Homo sapiens: one gene and its partner. The protein of the gene in region 1 purifies or fractionates together with the protein of each later gene. This does not show direct contact. Each region holds a gene or a part of one and is shown on either strand. Other genes may lie near its edges.

Region 1 (3,929 bases):
CAGGAGTCCAGGTCCTCAACCCCCTCCTCCCTCAGGCCCAGGAGTCCAGGTCCTCAACCCCCTCCACCCTCAGGCCCAGGAGTCCGGGTCCTCAACCCCCTCCTCCCTCAGACCTAGGAGTCCAGGTCCTCAACCCCCTCCTCCATCAGGCCCAGGAGTCCGGGTCCCGTGTAGAAAATGAAATCATTTCTGGAACCCACCCCTGCCTTGACCCCACCCAGCTGCCCCATCAATGCCCCATTGACAGGTCAGACACAAGTGCTTGGAGAGGGGTGTCCAGGGGATCAGATGCTGGGGTCTAGTTTGGGGAAAGAATGAGACAATGAGATTCCAGAACGATGCAGTGTGGGATGACCTCAGACTCAGAGGGGCGGGAAGCAGGTGCTGGAGCAACTGGGAAGAGAGGCCTTGAGGGGGTGGGGAGGCCTCAGTTCTGCCGGAAAACTTCAGATGGGTGGGGGAGGCTGAGGCCTGGACTCCTGGGTCTGAGGGAGGAGGGACTGGGGCCTGGACTCCTGGGTCTGAGGGAGGAGGGGCTGGGGCCTGGACTCCTGGGTCTGAGGGAGGAGGGGCTGGGGGTCTGGACTCCTAGGTCTGAGGGAGGAGGGGCTGGAGACCTGAATTCCTGGGTCTGAGGGAGGAGGGGCTGGAGACCTAGACTCCTGGGTCTGAGGGAGGAGGGGCTGGGGTCTAGACTCCTGGGTCTGAGGGAGGAGGCACTGGGGGACTGGATTCCTGGGTCTGAGGGAGGGAAAGCTGGGGGCCTGGATTCCTGGGTCTGAGGGAAGAAGAGCTGGGGGCCTGGACTCCTGGGTCTGAGGGAGGAGGGGCTGGGGCCTGGACTCCTGGGTCTGAGGGAGGAGGCACTGGGAGACTGGATTCCTGGGTCTGAGGGAGGAGGCGCTGGGGGCCTGGACTCCTGAGTCTGAGGGAGGAGGAGGGGCTGGGGCCTGGACTCCTGGGTCTGAAGGAGGAGGGCTCAACTCTTGGGTCAGGGTATTCACCTGACCACAGCCAGTTCCAGGAGTCATCACACGATGTCGCTCTGCTCCCAGTGGGGGCAGAAGGGGCGGGCCCAGGGGCGGGGCCTTACGACCCCCAAAGTCGGGGCGGGGTCTTGCTCCTAGGCAGGCCTCTGCTGGCATGAGCCCTAAGTGCCGGGCACTGACCACAGCCGGCGGCCGGAGGGTCAGGAGGGCCTTGGAGGAGGTGAGGTCTGGAGGTCTGAGCCCAGGTTGGGAGGTGGGCAAGGTGCCCTGGCCTGAGGTGGGCAGCACCTGAGGGTGACTGTACCAGGTGGCCCGAGTCCTCGGTCCCTCAGGGGAGCCTGGGCTGCACCTGGAGGCTGTAGAGCGGTGGAGGGTGAGGGAAACAGAATCAGGGGGTCCCCAGTTGTGTGAATTGTATGAGGTTCCGGGAGAGAGGTGGGCTGGGGGCCTGGACCCCTGGGCCTGGCGGAGGAGGGGCTGGGGGGCTGGGTCGGAGGGAGGTGGGTGGGCTGTGAAAGTGGGACCCCAGGCCTGTCAGGAGCTTGGGGACTGATCCCAAGTGCTCGGTCCCATGCAGGACCCAGGCGTCCCAGGCCCTCTGCACAGCCCGCCCTCCCAGCCCTGAGCCCAAGAGCACCTGTTTGTTCTCAGGAGACAGAGTCTACTCATCCACCCCCAGGGCCCAAGTCTGTTTGCTTTGGAAACAAGATGGGGGAGTCTCAGTTATCTGGTTCATCTTTCAACCTCAGGGTGGGCGGGTGGCGGCGGCGGCACGCGGGCAGGGACATCTGTGACCTGGGGCTTGAACTCACACCAGACTTGTCTCCCCACCTCTCACCAAGAGGGAGACTGAGTCACAATGAGAAGCGCGATGAGCCCCCAGCCCCTCCTCCCTCAGACCCAGGAGTCCAGACCCCCAGTCCCCTCCTCCCTTGGGCCTGGGACCTGAGCCTGGGCACCCCTCTCTGTTCTCGCAGAGATGCCCGGCAAACAGTCTGAGGAAGGGCCGGCGGAGGCAGGGGCTTCGGAGGACAGCGAGGAGGAGGGTCTGGGCGGCCTGACATTAGAGGAGCTCCAGCAGGGCCAGGAGGCTGCCCGCGCGCTGGAGGACATGATGACGCTGAGTGCTCAGACCCTGGTCCGAGCCGAGGTGGACGAGCTCTACGAGGAAGTGCGTCCCCTGGGCCAGGGTTGCTATGGCCGCGTCCTTCTGGTCACCCATCGTCAGAAAGGTACGAGGCTGTGGGGCCAGAGGTGGCAGGGTTCAGCTGGGGGCGGGGCACGGGCCTGGGGTAGCCCAGGCTGGGGAGGCTGGCAGGCCTGAATCAAGTCTTACCTCTGCCCTCCAAAGCTGTGTGTTTTTTGTTTTTTGTTCTTTTGGTTGGTTGGTTGTTTTTGAGACAGTCTGGCTCTGCCGCCCAGGCTGGAGTGCAGTGGCACAATCTCACTGCAACTTCCACCTCCCAGGTTCAAGTGTTCCTCCTGCCTCAGCCTCCCATGTAGCTAGGACTATAGGCATGCACTACCACACCCAGCTACATTTGTGTGTGTGTGTATTTTTCTTTCTTAGTAGAGATGAGGTTTCACTCTGTTGGCCAGGGTGGTCTCGTACTCCTGGCCTCCAGTGATCCGCCTGCCTCAGCCTCCCAATTGCTGGGATTACAGGCATGAGCCACGGTGCCCTGCCAAAAACTGTGTTTTGAGGAACTCCCTTGCCCTCTCTGAGTCTCAGCTTCCTCCTTTGGAAAATGTGGGTGATGATTTCTACTTGGAAGAATGGTGGATCCTCTGAGTGAATGTGGACTGCTCTAGTTGCTGGGGTTGTATAATGCTGGGTAAGACAGAGCTCCCAGCTCAGGAGCCTCCTGTGGCGGCTGTAGTGGTCACCGTGGGATGATGCAGAGTGATGCTGTCTGCTAAGCACTTAGCAAGGCCGGCACACAGTGGGTGCGCAGGACAGCTCCCCACTACCCTGGGCCTTTCTGCCAAGCACCGTGTCCTTCCATGAAACGGAAAATAGGGAGGCAACCTGAGGTCAGTCAGTTCAGGGCACGCCTTCTGAGGCCAGCCCTGTGCTGGGGGGGTTGGGCGGGCAGTGGACCCAGAATTGAACCAGAGCCAGTCCCTGCCTTCAAAAATCTCCTAGCATGAATGCAGAAAAAGTGTGCATTCATCTGCTGGGGCTGCCATAACAAAGGCAGGCGCTTCCACAACAGAACTTTTGACTTTTTTCTTTCTTTTTTTTTTTTGAAATGGAGTCTCGCTCTGTTGCCCAGGCTGGAGTGCAGTAGCACAATCTCAGCTCACTGCAACCTCCGCTTTCCAAGTTCAAGTGATTCTTGTGCCTCAGCCCCCCGAGTAGCTGGGATTACAGGTGCATGCCACCATGCCCAGCTCATTTTTGTATTTTTAGTAGAGATGGGGTTTCACCATGTTAGCCAGGCTAGTCTTGAACTCCTTATTTCAAGTGATCCTCCTGCCTCAGCCTCCCAAAATGCTGGGATTACAGGTGTGAGCCACTGTGCCTGGCCTTTTTTCTTTTCTTTTTTTTTCTTTTTTTTTTTTTTTTGAGACAGGGTCTCGCTGTTGTCCAGGCTGGAGTGCAGTGGCACAATCATAGCTCACTGCAGCTTTGACCTCCTGGGCTCAAGGGATCCTCCCACCTCAGCTCTGCAAGTAGCTGAGACTACAGGCGCATGCCACCATGCCCGGCTAATTTTTAAATGTTTTTTTTAAGATGGGGTCTCACTGTGTTGCCCAGGCTGGTCTCAAACTGGCCTCAAGTGGTCCTCCTGCCTCAGCCTCCCAAAGTGCTGGGATTACAGGTGTGCGCCACCGTGCCTGGCCAACAACAGAGCTCTGTTTCCTCACAGCTTTGGAGGCTGGAAGCCCGAGATCAAGATGTCAGCAGGGTTGGTTCTCCTGAGGCCTCTCTCCTTG
Region 2 (2,821 bases), on another chromosome or scaffold:
TTTACTCTTCAGTTTTGTTATCCAGGCAGTTAGCCATTCAGTGTCACACTAGATGCAGCAGTGAGGCAGCTTCCAGGATATTTTCTCTATGGTATCTTTCCATCTCAGCGAAGAGGAGTCTAACAGGACCATTAACCATGTATGAACTGTAAACACAGCAGCAGGGGAAGAAAAATATCTACAATCATCTCAAAATAGAGGTCTGAGCCCCAGTTCAGTTGCATGACTAGACTGTACACTAACACCTGGATCTCATTCCCTTCAAGGATTTGCTGTTTGGGAAAGTCTTAGATGAATAAAACCTTTCCAGTCAATTGTTTGAACTCTTCGTTCCCTCCCATTCCACAACACAATTATTTTAGTACATAAGCATGCTGATTGTTATTAAATTAATTTTCATCCTAGCCTCAAATTTTAAAAAAATTTACAATAAATTGACTAGTAACATTTTTCCCATCTTCCCCTTCTTTGTGGATTATCATATCATAATGTCAAGCAAATGGGTGATTTATATTTTATTGTTATATGTTGACATCCTCAGTAACAATGTTAAATAAATATTTGCTTTAATTTGCTTAGAACAAGTACATTGCATGAAGTTTGTATAATTATTATAGGTCACAAAAAAACAGAATCTTCTTCACATTTATCATAGTAGTTGTTTGGAAATGAAAATAAGGATATATCTTGGCTTCTTTCTGGATTTCCTTAACTTAGTTCCCATACTTCCTAAATGATGAAGTGATTGGTATTCTGCTGTCTTTGCTTGACCTTTCATAATGAATATGATCATTTCTAATATTCCACTAAGAAAAACACCTAATACTTTTCTGTGCCAATAAAATGTAGGGGATTTTTTTCTTCTTATATTTTCTTTCACTCCTTGTTCTGCACCTTGAAAATGGATATTTGCTGAAATGAGAGGAGCTGAGGAACTGAAGAAAAGGAGTGCTTCAAATTGTATATATGCATTACAAATTTATGTCAACAAGTCAAAATTCTGACAAAACTTCTAGAGAACAAATGAATACAGGCTGTAATGTAATATTGTATTATCTATTTCTCTATGTACATAAAGTTTCAACTATTGCTCACAGATGACAGAGTTGATCTGGCAGAAGCAGGATGCTTATGTGCGGAACAGAGCTGGGAAGAAAATACATGCATCAAGCAAACAGTTTATTGAGATCAGTCAAATCTAGCTGTTTTGCAAGTCTTCTCCAATTCTGTATCTCTAAAAATGGCCTCCACACCCAAAAAACAAAAAAAAATGTTATCTGTTCCATGAGGCTTTTCTCTCTTAGATACCAGTTTTTGAAGTAATCCAGTCCCGCAAGGCCGTAACTCTAGTATAAACACCAGGCTTGTTGGGTTTCGCACATTCATCTCCCCAGCTCACTATTCCAGCAAGGTACCAGATATCTCTAGCATCTGAACTAACCAGTGGTCCTCCAGAGTCACCCTAAAGGAGAAGACAGAAATTAGTAATTCATAATTCAGTTCATTACAGAGGAATTGGCTATTTTTCTAACTTAAGAATGTAATGAAAGGGGTAATTTTCAAAAGTATTCCGTGTGTTCGCATGCATAAGTGATTTTCTCCATCTATGTCAGTTATCCACCTAAAAGAGGACCTCCAATACCTTGAAAACTGATGAGATTGAAACCTTGAAACCTTGAAATACCTTGAAACCTTCAAAACAATGAGATTGAAGCCTCCATCTCTTTGAAGAACTGTACTCTTAACTTATGTGACACATCTGACAAAATAACTCCCTAATTATTTTGTCTATACTCTTTATTAGTGTAACATAACCCCCCAAAAAAGGGAGTGAAGAGTCTATTACTGATTTTAAAAAAACAAACAAACAAAAAAAAACAGACATTAGAGTCAGACACCAGGGTTTCTATCTCAAGTTTGGCCTTTCCATGCTGGCTAAGACCTTTAATTTATTTATCTGTAAATGCTCCTAATAATACCTACCTGTGATGAGTGCTATGAAGATGATGTAAGACAGTGAATGTAAAGTGCTTAGTCTAGCAAAAGGCAGAACTTAGGAAATGCATATATAAAATCACAAATTCTCATTATTTATATCCTGCAAACTCCAGAGTTTTGATTCTTTATATGGCTTGTAATAATGAGGTACTGGCTGATTATTCCTCAAGATCCTGGCGCTTCTAATTATTGACCACCCATTAAGTATTCATACTCACTCTATGAAGTTCTTAATTGATTAAAATATTATCTCATTAATTCATGTAATTCTTGTTTACAAAAAACATAGAACTAGGTTAATTTTTTCTGGGTTACTAAGAAAACTGAAACTCAGAAACATTAAGTAATTTGCCTGAGATCACGTGCTAATCAGTGGCAGACCCCGAATTTGAATCCAGAGCGATCTAATTCAGAAGCCCATGCTTTTTTCCCTACGTTATGCTAACTTCCTTGTGAATTTTCTTTTGTCCATTTAAAAAATTAACTAATATAATAGTAAATTTGAAATAATACATTTGTGATTTTAAATCAACTAACCAATAAGCATTTACTGATACCCTCGTATGTAGGAGGAGATATAAAAAGAGTATTATAAACACATGGATCTTGTCCTCTAGAAACCTGCAATCTGCTTATAGAAATAAGATATGCCATATGAAGCTATTCAAAAATAAATAATTTTGATAATAAAATCCCAAGTCTATATGCAGGCAGAGAAAATCAGGATAGAGAAATAGAAGATACAAGAGAAAACAAAGCTTTAATCAGCATAAGAGACAGGAATAAATGAGTCCGAGAATAAATAATTATTTTAAAGAGATAG

What was found.
Region 2: the proteins of SBK2 (region 1) and TMPRSS11E purify together in Homo sapiens (affinity purification with mass spectrometry; one large-scale study listed by BioGRID and IntAct). This does not show direct contact.

What each region holds. Positions count from the first base shown.
Region 1 is NC_000019.10:55,534,334-55,538,262, reverse strand, and holds the start of SBK2 (serine/threonine-protein kinase SBK2), read left to right. Parts: upstream 1-1,129; 5' UTR 1,130-1,209; intron 1,210-1,966; 5' UTR 1,967-1,968; coding exon 1,969-2,221; intron 2,222-3,929.
Region 2 is NC_000004.12:68,495,284-68,498,104, reverse strand, and holds the end of TMPRSS11E (transmembrane protease serine 11E precursor), read right to left. Parts: intron 1,463-2,821; coding exon 1,301-1,462; 3' UTR 501-1,300; downstream 1-500.